2 linked regions of the Homo sapiens genome follow. The protein of the gene in region 1 purifies or fractionates together with the protein of each later gene. This does not show direct contact. Each region holds a gene or a part of one and is shown on either strand. Other genes may lie near its edges.

Region 1 (7,071 bases):
AGTACGTGGGCCTCAGTTCCACTCAGTCGTCGGCCCGTGAAGATGAGCTCCTTCGCCAGGGCCACCCCCAGACAACGGGGCAGCCTCTGAGTCCCTCCTACCAGGATGGAGGGAGCAGGGTGGGAATCAGCATGGGAAGTGGGAACCCAGAGAAGGCTCAGCCTGGGACTCAGCCAAGACTTCTCAGAGGAGCAGGGTTCAGGTGGGAGGGCAGAGCCCAGAACAGAGGGCAAAAAAGGAAAGCAGCGAAGGACCCTGGATGGGGTGGAATTGGGCGGGTGCTGTAGTTGCGATTACCTGCCCCCGGGAGGAGCCCTCGCGTGGTCTCAATCAGTCCCATGACTGCCGAGGAAGCTGCTCAGATAGAACAAAGTGAGGCCTCCCTCCCCCATCCGGTCCCCCAGTGCTAATCCCGGGGGCCACAGCTGCCTCTGCTGTCTACTCGCCCCTCTAGCCACTTGCCCCATGGTCTGGCCACAGCCAGGCCTCTCCAGACTCTGCCTTTGGAAGAGCCCTAGCCCAGAAGTCAGGAGCCCAGGCCCTTATTTCACCATGCCCCTTTGATGGAGTTGTAAGTCACCAGCAAGTCTCACCCTTCCCAAGCCTCAAAGGTGGAAGAAAGATGGCTGGCCCTCTTCTGTCTGCTTCAGAGAGCCGCTAAGGATCACACGAGGTACGACGCTTGGAACAAGGAGAGTTCCTAGGAGGTGCCCCATATCTATTTGTGGATTACTATTAATAGGTTCTCTGGCTTAGCCCTGGCCTGGCCTAGAATGTCAGTGACTCCTGCTCCTGCTACAGTCGTCCGTTCCAGCTTTGTCACAGCCTGAAATTGCCCTGACTGTTCCAGTCCATGTCCTCCTGAGTTCTGCTTCCTTCCTTCGAGAAACTTGCCTTGACTGACGCACCCCCCCGGGTCTGTCTCCTTTTCTGAATTCCCTCAGCATGGACCATGTGAACGTGGGCAGAAGGGAGTGGGTTTTACATTCACTCCGTCTTAGTCTTCCCCAAAACCCTGTGAGTTAGTTGCGTGAACGTGGGCATGTGAGAAGGAGAGTTGGGGCTAGACCAGCCTGGTATTTTGGTGCCTGGACACCTGGTCAGTTCCTTCTCTTTGACCTGCATTGTGTAGACAGAAGCTACTTTCATGCCTGGAGCTACACATTTTTATATGTTGCTCCTGGGGTGGCAGGAGAGAGCGGTGGGGGGAGAAGGGAAGACATTCAGACTTTGCCTAACTGCATCCAAGAAGGCTGCTCCTAATCACCAGGTCAGTCACCTGAGAAAATGATCAGTTATCTTCTTTATCCCCTCCCATTCTTCAAACAAAGCTCAATTGCTCAGAACAAGTAATGCAAATTTGGCTGGTGCCAGTATTCCTGCCCAGGCACCTTTGTGATTAGCTCAGCCATTGACAAACTATCCCTGAGGCTCACCTTTTTCCGAAACATGGTCGATAAATCTGACTTGGACAGAATGGGAAGACTGGACATTGCTCTTTGACCTCCTTGGCTCGTAACAGCAATTGCTCTGAGGTTGGTCAAATATTCCCAAAATGAAGGAAGCAGGTTCTGACAGGTCACAGATACTACAGCAGCTAATGGCTGCACCAGGAGGGGAAGCAGCTTCTGCCTGAGCACCCTCTGTGCTCTGCCTTGCCTTAGTTTTGCTTTTGGTTGGAAGCCAAGAACAGTGGCTGACTGCAGAATGTCCAGACTCACCCTGTTTCACTCACCCCTGACTCCCTAGCCCCACCCCCTGCCCCCAGTCCTGGCCCAGTACCTGCCACTCGGAGGTCACAGGCCAGGGCAAGCTCTAGGCCTCCGCCCAAGGCAAACCCATCCATAGCCGCAATGGTGGGTGCAGGGAAGGCTGCTGTGGAGAGGAAGAAAGGCTCAGCCTGCAAAGCCCTGGTGGGACCAGGACAGAGACTCAAGGCTGGGGAGGGGCAAGCTGGTTGGGACAGAGGCCTCAGTGGACCCAGGTCTGGGGACATTACATGGAACCTCAGCCAGGTTATCTTAATTCTTTTTTTTTTTTTTTTTTGAGACGGAGTCTTGTTCTGTCACCCAGGCTGGAGTGCAGTGGCATGATCTTGGCTCACTGCAACCTCTGCCTCCCAGGTTCAAGTGATTCTCTTGCCTCAACCTCCTGAGTAGCTGGGATTACAGATGTGCGCCACCACGCCCAGCTAATTTTTTTGTATTTTTTTTTTTTTTTTTTTAAGTAGAGACGGGGGTTTCACCATGTTGGCCAGACTGGTCTTGAACTCCTGACCTCGTGATCCGCCCGCCTCAGCCTCCCAAACTGCTGGGATTACAGGAATGAGCCACTGCGCCCGGCCTCTTTTTTTTCCTTTTTTCTTTTTTTTTTTTTTTGAGATGGAGTCTCGCTGTTGTTGCCCAGGCTGGAGTGCAATGGCACAATCTCTGCTCACGACAACCTCTGCTTCCCGCAGCCAGGTTATCTCAGAAGCCAATTTTCCCTTTAGGGAAAGTTACAGAATCAGCCAGGGAAGAGGAATGGGAGGATGGGCTGGATGATCCCTGTTCAGGCCTAATCCGCTGGCCTCCCTGGGGCCTCCCTTTCTTTGTGCCAAGCCCTGTGCTGGGTGCTGGGAACTGGGAACACAGAATGAATCAGACATAGCCTTTGTTCCCATGGGGCTCAGTCTCATGGGGAAGACAAATGTGTATCAGGCATTATTGACCCAGGATCATCAGTGCTCCAATAAAAAGCTCAGAGGGTGGGTTGGGAAGGCTTCCTGGAGGAGGAGGTACTGGAGGGCTTGAAGGACAAGTAAAAGTTCAAGTAACCAAGAAGGGGTATCTCAGGCAAAGGTAACAGCAATTGTCAAAACTTGAAAGCATGCTTGGGGAAACTTAACTGCTTTGGAATGGCCAGGCTTGAACCCTGAGGGTGGGGCGGGACACAAAAGCTGAAGAGCCAGAACTCCCTCTCTGAGAGAACTGCCCTCGGTCATCCTCCTCCATCCCCCTGGGTGAGTCATCTGTCTTATCACAGAACTCCAAACAGAAAGAAGACTCTCCTTAGATGCTGGTGGGGGTAGCGGGACTGTCATCGGCAGGGACCCCCAAACCCCCTCCTCCACCCCACACCCAGATCCTCACCGATGTCATTCATCAGGCCCCGGAGTCGCTGGACAAACACCCCCACCTCTGCTTCACTCATCTGTTCCCGCTCCTTCAGGTCTGCACCTGCAGATGGCGAGGGTTGGTACCAGCCCTTAGGAAAATGGCACTTTACGGAATCCCAGGCGGTTAAAGGATCCAGCAAAGAAGACCTGAGGACAGGCAGCCAGCGAGGAAGGAGAAACACCAGGAACCCGGGCAAGGAAGTCAAGGGAAAAGAGGAGCATCAAACAAGGAGGGTGTGACACTGCAGAAAGGTGAACTGGACTCCATCAAAATGGAAACCTTCTGTGCATCAGAGGACACTATCAATAGAATACAAAGACAACCCACAGAAATGGCTGGGTGCAGTGGCTCACGCTTGCAATCTCAGCATTTTGGGAGGCCGAGGCAGGTGCATCACCTGAGGTCAGTAGTTCAAGACCAACATGGTGAAACCCTGTCTCCACTAAAAATACAAAAATCAGCCAGGTGTGGTGGCGGACACCTATAATCCCAGCTACTCAGGTGGCGGAGGCAGGAGAATCACCTGAACCCAGGAGGTGAAGGCTGCAGTGAGCTGAGATCGCACCAACTGCACTCCAGCCTCGGTGACGAGCAAGACTCCGTTTCAAAGAAGAAAAAAGAAAAAAAAGAAAAGACAACACACAGAATGGAAGAAAATATGTGTAAATCATATATCTGATAAAGGTTTAATATCTAGGATATATAAAGAACTTCTCCAACTAAACAACAAAACAACCCAATTCAGAAATGGGCAAAGGGCCAGGCGCAGTGGCTCACACCTGTAATCCCAGCACTTTGGGAGGCCGAGGTGGGCACATCACCTGAGGTCACGAGTTCAAGACCAGCCTGGCCAACGTGGTGAAACAGTGTCTCTACTAAAAATACAAGAATTAGCCAGGTGTGTTGGTGGGCACCTGTAATCCCAGCTACTAGGGAGGTTGAGGCTGAGGCAGGAGAATCGCGTGAGCCCAGGAGGCAGAGGTTACAGTGAGCCAAGATTGTGCCACTGCGCTCCATCCTGGGTGACAGAGTCTCAAAAAAAAAAAAAAAAAAAAAAAAAGGAAAAAGGACTTGAATAGACATTTCTCCTGAGGAGATACACAGATGGTCAATAAGCACTTGAAAAGTTGCTCAATCTCATCGTCATTAGACAAATGCAAATCAAAAACCACAATGAGATACTACCTCACGTCTATTAGAATGGCTTTTAAAACAAACAAAACAAAAAGTTGGCATGGATGTGGAGACATGGAACCCTGGTGCATTGCTGGTGGGAGTGTAAACCCATGCAGCTGCTGTGGAAACCAGTTCCAAAAAGTTAAACAGAATTACCATACAATTCTAGTCCCAAGTATATACCCAAAAGAGTTGAAAGCAAGGACTCAAACAGATACAGTCCCTCCTTATCCGTAGGGGACTGGTTCCAGGACCCCTCAGATACAAAAATCCATGGATGCTCAAGCCCCTTGTATAAAATATTGTAGTATTTGCAATATGACCTATGCTCATATATCCTCCTGTATACTCTAAGCCAGGGGTTCCAATCTTTTGGCTTTCCTGGGCCACACTGGAAGAATCGTCTTGGGCTACACATAAAATACACTAACACCAACGGTAACTGATGAGCTTAAAAAAAAAAAAAAAAACACCACACAAAAAAATCTTATAATGTCTTAAGAAAGTTTACAAATTTGTGTTGGGCCACATTCAAAGCCATCCTGGGCCACATGCGGCCCAGAGGCCGAGGGTTGGACAATGGACAAGCTTGCTCTAAATTGTCTCTAGATTACTTACAATACCTAATACAATGTAAATACTATGTAAACTGTTGTACTGTGTTGTTTTTATCTATATTATTTTTTGTTGTTGCATTGTTATTTTTGTTGTTAACATTTTCAATCTGCGGTTGGTTGAGTCTGTGGGTGCGGAACCTGCAGATGCAGAGGGCTGACGGTACTTGTACACCAATGTATTTGGGGACATTCTTCACAGTGGCCAAAAGTGAAAACAACCCAAGTATCTATCAACAGATGATTGGGTAAACAAAATGTGGTATATATACAATAGAATGCTACTCATTACAATAGAATGTTACTCCATAAAAAGGAATGGAGTTCTGACACTTGCCACAACTTGGAGGAACCTTGAGGACATGTTAAGTAAAATAAGCCAGGCACCAAAAAACAAATATGATATGATTCTACTGGTATGAGGTATTTAGAATAGATAAATACATAGAGACAAAGTACCATAGAGGTTACCCAGGCTGGAGGGGAAGGGGGAATGGGAGTCACTGTCTGAACAGGCTGAGTTTGTTTGGTATGATAAAGAAGTTCTGGGAATGGATAGCGGTGACATTGCACAATATTGTGAATGTACTTAATGCCACTCTGAATTGTACACTTAAAAATGGTTAAAACGGTAAATTTTGTGTTACTTATATTTCACCACAATTTCGTTTTTTTTTTTTTTTTTTTTTTTTTTTTTTTTTTGAGATGGAGTTGTGCTCTGTCACCCAGGCTGGAGTGCAGTGGCGTGATCTCAGCTCACTGTAACCTCCACCTCCCGGGTTCAAGCAATTCTCCTGTCTCAGCCTCCTGAGTAGCTGGGATTACAGGCACTGGCCACAATGCCTGGCTAATTTTTGTATTTTTAGTAGAGACGCGGTTTCACCATATTGGTCAGGATGGTCTCGAACTCCTGACCTCAGGTGATCCACACACCTCGGCCTCCCAAAGTGCTGGGATTACAGGCGTGAGCCACTGCACCCAGCCCACAATTTCTAAAATATGTAAGTAATAAGAAAATTAAAACTTGACTAATTTTTACAGGCAGAGTCAGCAAGGTCCAAGAAGGCTGAGAGGTCAAAGGTCAAGTAAACGAGAACGGAAGTGAGCACAAGATACGGTGGCATGCAGGTGGGCAAGCGCCTTGGCGGGAAGAGTGACCGTGGTGGGGTCCTCAAAGGCCAGATGCAGGGGTGAGCAGGAGTAGAGAGTAAATAGACTCTTCCAGTCCTAGACTACAGGAAGTCAGAGCTGGGAGAGCCTTTGGAAATCTTTGATCAGTTCCAGCCCTTCTGTGAGAGATGCGGAAACTGAAGCTCCGAGAGGGGCAGGAACTAGCCCAGGAATTCTAGAGCTGCAATCTCAGCTCACTGCAACCTCCGCCTCCCGGGTTCAAGCAATTCTCCTGCCTCAGCCTCCTGAGTAGCTGGGACTACAGGTGCCTGCCACCATACCCAGCTAATTTTTGTATTTTTTAGTAGAGAAGGGGTTTCACCATGTTGGCCAGGCTGGTCTCGAACTCGGGCCTCAAGTGATCTACCCGCCCCAGCCTCCCAAAGTGCTGGAATTACAGATGTGAGCCACTGTACCCGTCTTGGACTCCATTTTCTTATTTCCCCCGTGAAGGGTCAGAACAAAGCATGGCATAGCCGAAATAACTAAGATCTAAGGGTTAGAGAGGCCAAGTTCAAACTAAAGTCTATCCTACCCCTTACTAGCTATGTGATCCTAGGCAAGGGAATTTTCCTCCCTGAGTCTCTGCATTCACATCGGTAAAATGGCAACAATGAGTCCCATGCTGAAGCTGATCTAAGGTTTCCCCCAACCCCTGGAGGCTGGTGGGCACCCTGCAGAGCACAGATGGGGGCAGGAGAGAGAACCTACCTGCACAGAACACGCCCTTCACTCCACTTCTGAAGAGCAGGACACGCACTTGCCGGTCCTCCCGCAGCTGGGCCAGAGTTTCCAGCAGCTACAGAGGACACCCAGTTAGATAGTGCCAGCCCATCCCCAGCCCACCCTGGCGCCCGCCCTTTCTTACCTCACTGACGAAGACATTCCCCAAGGCATTGCGGGCAGAAGGTCTGTTCATCAGAATCTCAGTGATCCCTGTAAGGAGTCAGGGC
Region 2 (7,704 bases), on another chromosome or scaffold:
TCTTCCCCACCCAGCCTAGACTCCAACCCTCCAGTCAAATCCTGGTCCTGCCTGCCTGGTGAACCCATAAAAACTCCCCAGGCTCAGTTCTCCTCCCCAAGCCACCATCACCTCCAGCCTGGACTACTGTAGTCACCTCCTTGCCATTCAGAGCAGGTCACGCTGCTTCTAGGATTTACCACAATGTGTGGAATTATTTTATGTGACTATATATTTACCATCTCTAACTTCTATGAGGGCAGAGACCAGTACCACTCAGATGTCTAATAGGCATCTCAAAACCCAAATTCCTGATTCTTCTAACCCAGCGTGCTTCTCCTGGAGTACAGGGCAGCTCCATCCTTCTAGCTGCTCAGGCCAGGAGCTTTGGGGTCCAGGACCCTGGACTGCTCTTTCTCTCACTGCACTTGTCATGCTCCCAGTGGGTGGCACCAAACTGCAATGCCAAGTCCGGACCTTTTCAAACTCCAGGTACCTAAATGAAATTTAGCAAATCCTGTTTGAATGTAGTTTCAAAACAGCCAAACACTTAGGACCGTCTCCACGGCAGCACCCTAGTCTGGTCTGTCTCTCTCCTGGACGGCTGCATGGGGCTCCCCACAGGTCTCCTGCTCCCGCCTTGCCTCCTCTACAAACACTCCTTCACATAACAGCCAGTGGGATCATGCCCTGAATCTTCTCAGCATCCTCCCCTGGATCCCATCTCACTTTAGTATAATAACTGCTAATGGCCGATGAGGCCCTACATGTGTGGCTCCTTGTTTCTCCAACCTCCTCTCCTTCAGCCTTGATGTCGTTTACTCTGACACCTGAGGAATACTCCTGCTCCAGATGTTTGCACTGGCTCTCCCCTCTGCCCTGAGTACTCTTCCTGCCACTGAGCCCAAGAAGCAGCCCTTAGGACTCATCTGCAGTGACCGTCGGGAACATCTGTCACAGGTGAGCAGCAACTCTTGGAATCTTTCTTCCCCCGACTTTTGACTCACTCCTTCTGTGCTCCTGGATTTCCTGCTCAATTCTCTTTTGGGGACGCCTCTTCATGTCCTCAGGTCCTGCCTAGCACCCATCTCTTTCCATTTTTTAAAGATTTTTAATTTAATTTAATTTAATTTTTTGAGATGGAGTCTGGCTCTGTTACCCAGGTGGAATGCAGTGGCACAATCTCGGCTCACTGTAACCTCTGCCTCCCAGGGTCAAGCGTTTCTCCTGCCTTAGCCACCCGAGTAACTGGGACTACAGGCGTGTACCACCATGCCTGGCTAATTTTTTTTTTTTTTTTTGTATTTTTAGTAGAGATGCGGTTTCACCATGTTGGCCAGGCTGGTCTTGAACTCCTGACCTCAAGTGATCCGCCCGCCTCGGCCTCCCAAAGTGCTGGGATTACAGGCGTAAGCCACTGTGCCCAGCTTCTTTCCATTCTTATGAGCGCCTCTGAATCATGATATTCAGATGTCCCTCCTGGCTGGTCCTCCACATGGCTGGGGCACCTTAAAGATGTTCAGACCCTAAGCGCCCAGACAACCTATTTCTTCCTCGAAAGGCAGAAACCTGTTCTTGCCCATCTGTTCCCTCTCTTCTGAGAGCAGCCACCACCTTTCATCCAGCCCATCTGCAGGACAGGACGTAACGTCACCCTGGACTCATCTCTCCTCACCCCCTAAATCTACAGTCACCCAGTCCTGGGGGGTCCACGTCCTGAGGAAGGGAGACGCTCGCAGGGGACAAGGCTGCACAAGTTAGCAGAGCCTCATAGGCCATGATGTGGAATTTTAGGTTTATTCAGGAGGAGATGGGAGCCTTGGGAGGTTTTTGAACAGTAAAGTGGTATGATCTGGCATGTTTTAAAAGGATTCCTAGACTGGTCAACATAGCGAGACCCCATCTCTAAAAAAATAAATAAATAAATTAGCTGCACCTGGTGGCACAGGCCTGTAGTACCAGCTACTCAGGAAGCCAAGGCAGGAGGATCACTTGAGCCCAGGAGGTCAAGGCTGCAGTGAGCCATGATCGCACCAGTGCACTCCAGCGTGGGTGATAGAGTGAGACCTTGTCTCAAATAAAAAAAGTGGGATTCGTTTGGCTGCTGTGTGGGGAGGACTGTTGGTTGTCAGGGACAAGGACAGAAGGCTGGAGGTCAGCACACTAGACAGGAGTGCTGGCAGTAGAGGTGGGAAGAAGTGAAATTTTGGATCTATTTTGAAGGTGGAGCCCACAGGACTTGTATAAGACTGATTGGAGTGGGGACTGGGGCAACGACGAGAGAAAGTGATGAAGGGTAACTTTGAGGTTCTGGCCTGAGCATTGGAGGGACGGTGGGGCCATTTTGTGAGGTGAGAAGACCAGGAATTCCATTTGGCCACGTCAGGTTTGACATGCATGTTAAGCGTCTTCCCTCAAAGACTTTATGGACCCTCGTCACTGAGTCGAGCGCCTCCACCAGGGCCCTCAGAGCTGCCCTGATCCTGACTAGCTGTCACTGGTGACAGGTCTGTCTCTCTGCTTCAAGGCAGGGACAGGGTTGGTCTGGTGCCCTCGCTCCCGCCGCCCTGCGCAGAGTCGGTGCTCAGTAAGTATCTGTAGGATGAGGGAATAATAAGTGCTCCCAGAAGAGAGGCCGCGGACCCCAGGGATGCCTCTGGATTGCAGCCTTGTCAAAAGGACAGATAATGTGTGGCATGGGGGCGGGGACAGGCAGATAGTAACATAGGGGCGGGGGCAAGCAGATGGTCTTATCCTGTCTTGGGGAAGGGAGTGGCCCGGTAAGAGACAGGCCGGACCGCAGCGTTCAAAGTGGGAATCCTGGCTACAAGGCCTCAGGGACACGGGCGCTGGGAAATCACAGAGGCCTTACGCTCGAAGAGACCCTCAACCCTCCCACGGCACCGCAACAAAGAGCCGGAGTCCACATGCCGACCCACCGCAGGAGGAAATACTCACCCGGGCAGAACTCAGTGCTGGGATGCCCACACTGCCCACCACGCGGAAGCCTGGCCCGGAAGTGACTCCGAGACTACCACTCCCATAAGGTCTTGGGGCTTTCTTGCCTAGAACTCCCAGAAGCCCATGCGACACTTCCGCTGGATGCGCCTACGGCTCCGGGGTCCCGCTTGGCCTACAACTCCCAGAAACACTTGCATTGCTCTTTCTGCCGCTCCCAAAATACACTGCTCCCCCTCCCCCCGCGTTTACTTTCTGCGCCTGCGCGCGGCCGCAGGGAGCGGCGGAGCTGCGTGTACTGTTGTCATGGCAGCGCGCTGTCACCCGGCAGGTTGCTGGATGGGCGAAGTAGTTGTATTCTGATTAACTGATTTTGTGGGATTATTATAGGATTTTAAGGGGATTACAGGGCCTATGATTTCTGCCCTTTGAGGCGGGGTTGCGGGTGGGAATTGAAGGTGGAACTGCAGGGGTTGGTCGCTAGTGTAAAAGGCGCAGATAGCGCATGCGTAGAGCAGACTTCGAGGATTGGAGTGGAACTCCGCGCGCACGCGGGGGCTGTCGTGATGCGCGTGCTGGAGACCCAGACTCTAAACAGAAGGATCCAAAGACCCTTCTCACCTAACCCAGGAGCCCAGAGGCTCAGAGACTCAGACCCTTGAGACTAAGGGGGTTAAAAACGCAGACCCCTGGCACCAAAGCACCTGAGAGAACCAGTAGACCTGGAGACAACCGTCTGCACCCTAGACACAGGGATCTGGAGGCCTCCACCCTCCCCACAAGGCCCAAGGGTCTTGAAGACCCCGGTGACTCAAATACCGGGGCACAAGGAGTTTAAGGACTCAGATATCTGAGACCCTTGAGATCCAGGTCCCCAAACCTAGGTCCTCGAAAAAACTGAGGCTCAAAATTCCTCTAGACGGCGCGGTGGCTTACACCTGTAATCCCAGCACTTTGGGAGGCCGAGGCGGGTGGATCACGAGGTCAAAAGATGGAGACCATCCTGGCCAACATGGTGAAACCTCATCTCTACTAAAAATACAAAAATTAGCTGGGCGTAGTGGTGCGCGCCTGTAGTCCCAGCTACTCGGGAGGCTGAGGCAGGAGAATGGCTTGAACCCAGAAGGCAGAGGTTGCAGTGAGCCGAGATCGCGCCACTGCACTCCAGCCTGGCCACAGAGTGAGACTCTGTCTCAAAAAAAAAAAAAAAATCCTCTAGATTAAGGGACCACCAGAGCCTTAGACTGAGATGTGGAGATGTGCAGAGAGCCCCAGGATGTGTAGGTCTACGGCCGGTGATGACGTGAGAAGGAACCCCATGCACCCTGTAGCCCATTTTTTTCCCCCATAACAGGAAACCATGATGCCTTCCTTTCATATTAAATGAGCTCCGTGAGGTCACTCTTAAGCCTTATCATGGGCCAGTTCTGTTCATCTGTGTGCGTTGGTTCATTTGTTGAATTTATTTCCTGAGGTCTCCTTGTGCCAGGCTGCCCCTGGGCTAGGTTTAGGTGACACAAATGAATCAGACTTGGTTACTGTCCTCTGAGCATCCCCCACCCCTTACACCACCACCCTGTCCTCCTGGTGGGGGAGACAGGGACTTAGTCAATATGGAGTGATAAAGCTTGACATGGAAGTGTTAAGAGCCTTGAAAGCTCAATTTCAATCACTGCCAGCCAGGGTGTCAGAAAAAAAAAAAATTCAACAAAGGCTGCTATGTGCCATGCATCATCTCAGTTTGTTCATCTGTGAAAGGGGGGCAATAATAGCCTGCCTCATAGGATTTATGCGAAGTCAAATTGAATTAACAACACCTCTAAAGAATTTAGAACAGCTTCTGGCACATAGTATGTGCTCAACAAGTGGTTATTATTCTCATCTCAATTCTCATAACATTAAGATTATATGTTACATATGAGTTGGGTACAACTGTAATTCTTCTTCTTCTTTTTTTTTTTTTTTTTTTGAGATGGAGTCTCACTATGTCACCCAGGCTGGAGTGCAGTGGCGCGATCTCGGCTCACTGCAACCTCCACCTTCTGGATTCAAGTGATTCTCCTGCTTCAGCCTGCTGGGTAGCTGGAATTACAGGTGCGCTACCACACCTGGCTAATGTTAGTATTTTCAGTAGAGACGGTGTTTCACCATAGTGGCCAGGCTGGTCTCAAACTCCTGACCTCAAGTGATCCCAAAGTGCTGGGATTACAGGTGTGAGTCAGCATGCCCAGCCTTGTAATTCTACTTAGGTGAGGATCTTGAAGCTCAGTGATGTCACTTCCCTGGACTGCCTGACTCTACAGCAGGGGTTGCAAACCTTTCCTGTAAAGGGCCAGGTAGCCAATATTTTAGGCTTTGTGGGCCACAGGGTCTTTGTGGCAACTCTGCTGTTGTATGTTGAAAGCAGCCATTGATATAAGATAAGCAAGTGAGGGTGGCTGTATACCAATAAAACTTTATTGATGGACACTGACATTTGAATTTCATGTAATTTGCATGTGTCAGGAAATATTCTTCTTTTGAAGAATTTTGAAGATTTTACACCATTTAAAGATGTAAAATCATTTGTAGCTTGTGGGCCATGTAAAAACAGGCAGCAGGCCCGATTTGGCTGGTGGTCTCTGGTTTGTAGCTCCTTGCTCAAAGCCTGTCTCCTTAGTCTCCAAGCTGTGCTTGCTCCTGGAAGAGGTGTGAAGTGTGGCAAAGGAGGTTGAGAATTTGAGGGTCGAAATGGCCTTTTAATACAGAAGAAATCGCCTGAGCAAAGAAAGATCTTGTGGCAAGAAAGCACAGGGTGCCTTTTGTTTGAATGCAATTTATGTTATCTAATCAGGTTATGCACTTAAATGCTATAAAATGGAAACAGTGCATAGACTCTACAGTGAAGTCTCCCTGTCGTCTCCCCCCACCCACCCACTGTCTAGTTCTCCTCCTCAGAGGCAGCCTCTGTCCTGCAACAATGTGGGAGTGCATGCTGAATCGGGGTGTATAGAGTTTCCCCATTCTCCTCTGTGGGACCAGGATAAGAGTGGGATATTTGGGGCTCCAGAGATAGATGGGAAAAGAGGTGAGGTCAGCCATGAGAAGCCCTCTCACTCCCAGCCCTCTGCTGTCTGGTTTCTTTCCTGTCTCCCCTAACACAGTCTCCCGATCAACACCAGTGGCCTCTTTATTGACAAATAAAGGTCTAACCTGGGCTCTACCTACTTCTGAGTCTCTTTGCCCTGACCACAAAATCTACCCTCCCTGGTCCTCTTTCTGGCCAAACCATGTCAATCAACTTGCCAGGAGCCTTGTACTCCACAGCGCTGTCATTTCTCTGCAAACTCCCCAGGTGAGCTCATCCACTCCTGCCACTCCCGCAACTTCCGTCTCTGCCCTGATGCCTCCCCACTTTCCTGCATATCTCCACTGCATCCCGAGACTCGGACCTGCACAGTTAGCCCCTGGTGGTGGCACTGGCATGCTTCAGCCTCTAGGTGAGGATCCTGAATCACTTCGCTGACTCTTTTTCTCACCCACTGCTCCCCATTGTTCAGTGAAACTTGCCAGTTTTGCTTCTTGAAAGTTTCTCAGACCATTCCCTTCATCCTTGTGGCCCTGCCTTGGCTCAGCTCATCCTTTTTTTTAAATTATTCATTTATTTATTTATTTTTTTTGAGATGGAGTCTCACTCTGTCACCACAGCTGGAGTGCAGTGGCATGATCTCAGCTCATTGCAATCTTCGCCTTCCAGCTTCAAGCAATTCTCGTGCTTCAGCCTCCGGAGTAGCTGGGATTACAGGTGTCTACCACCATGCCCAACTAATTTTTTTATTTTTAGTAGAGACACAGTTTCACTGTGTTAGCCAGGCTGGTCTTGAACTCCTGACCTCAAGTGATCTGCCTACCTCGGCCTCCCAAAGTCCCAGGATTACAGATGTGAGCCACTGCGCCGGCCGTTTCTTGCCTGGACTCTCTCACCCCAACCTCTAATCCCTTCATTCCTGAATCCTCCCACACTAGCCCCAGATTTAACCTTGTCTCTCCCCTTCTCGAAACTCTTCCATGGCTCCCCATTGCCATCAGGCTTTCCATTGTCAAACCTCTGCAGACTGCAACGGAGGTGCTGCATGATCTGGTCCCTGCACACCCTTCCAGCCTCAGAATGCCTTGCCATCTCCAGGTCATCTAGCTGCCATCCTAAGCAATCCGCGTCTGGTGGAAGATATGGTGGCTGGGCTCAGCTGTCTCTCTCCAGCTCTGGGAGCTTTGGTTCCTGCAGCATCAATGTGCATCTCTGAGGGCCATTTCCTATATCTGGTGCTTGTTACTGGCAGCACTTGCTTCCCCACCCCTCGAAGGGCTAGAAGCTTCCCTGGGTAGAATTTCTGCATGAAGAGAGTTCGTTCACCCGTGGAGCCTACTGAGGAACGGGATTTTTGTCTGTGGTTGGTTGGTTTGTCTGTTTTCATTGTAGTGTATCAAACAGTCCTTATTTTGCCCTAAGTCCAGCTCTGTCCCACTGCCTTCTTGTTAGTTTTTGCATCTCCTTACTAAATGGTAGGTCTGCCTGGGTTCCCACAGCAGTGCTAATAAACTTTGTTGGCCAGAGGAGGCACCAGGAAAGACTCTCTGTTGGCAACACTCTCTGAAGGGCCCTCTGTTTCTCTTTGGCCTTGTCTCTCGTTCTCCTCATCCCAGGAGCCTTTTATGTGAGTTTCCACAGCTCCTCCTCGCACCCTCTCTTCTCTCTGCACTTCTCGTGGCTCCCCCCGATGTCTTGCA

Evidence for each region. The genes of interacting proteins can lie anywhere in the genome.
Region 2: the proteins of ECHDC2 (region 1) and CTU1 purify together in Homo sapiens (affinity purification with mass spectrometry; 3 studies listed by BioGRID and IntAct, with this or other methods). This does not show direct contact.

What each region holds. Positions count from the first base shown.
Region 1 is NC_000001.11:52,904,737-52,911,807, forward strand, and holds part of ECHDC2 (enoyl-CoA hydratase domain-containing protein 2, mitochondrial), read right to left. Parts: exon of another isoform or gene 7,055-7,071; coding exon 6,987-7,054; intron 6,918-6,986; coding exon 6,830-6,917; intron 3,219-6,829; coding exon 3,132-3,218; intron 1,876-3,131; coding exon 1,783-1,875; intron 701-1,782; coding exon of another isoform or gene 606-700; exon of another isoform or gene 355-605; coding exon 298-354; intron 98-297; coding exon 1-97.
Region 2 is NC_000019.10:51,105,410-51,113,113, forward strand, and holds the start of CTU1 (cytoplasmic tRNA 2-thiolation protein 1), read right to left. Parts: upstream 3,001-7,704; 5' UTR 2,938-3,000; intron 1-2,937.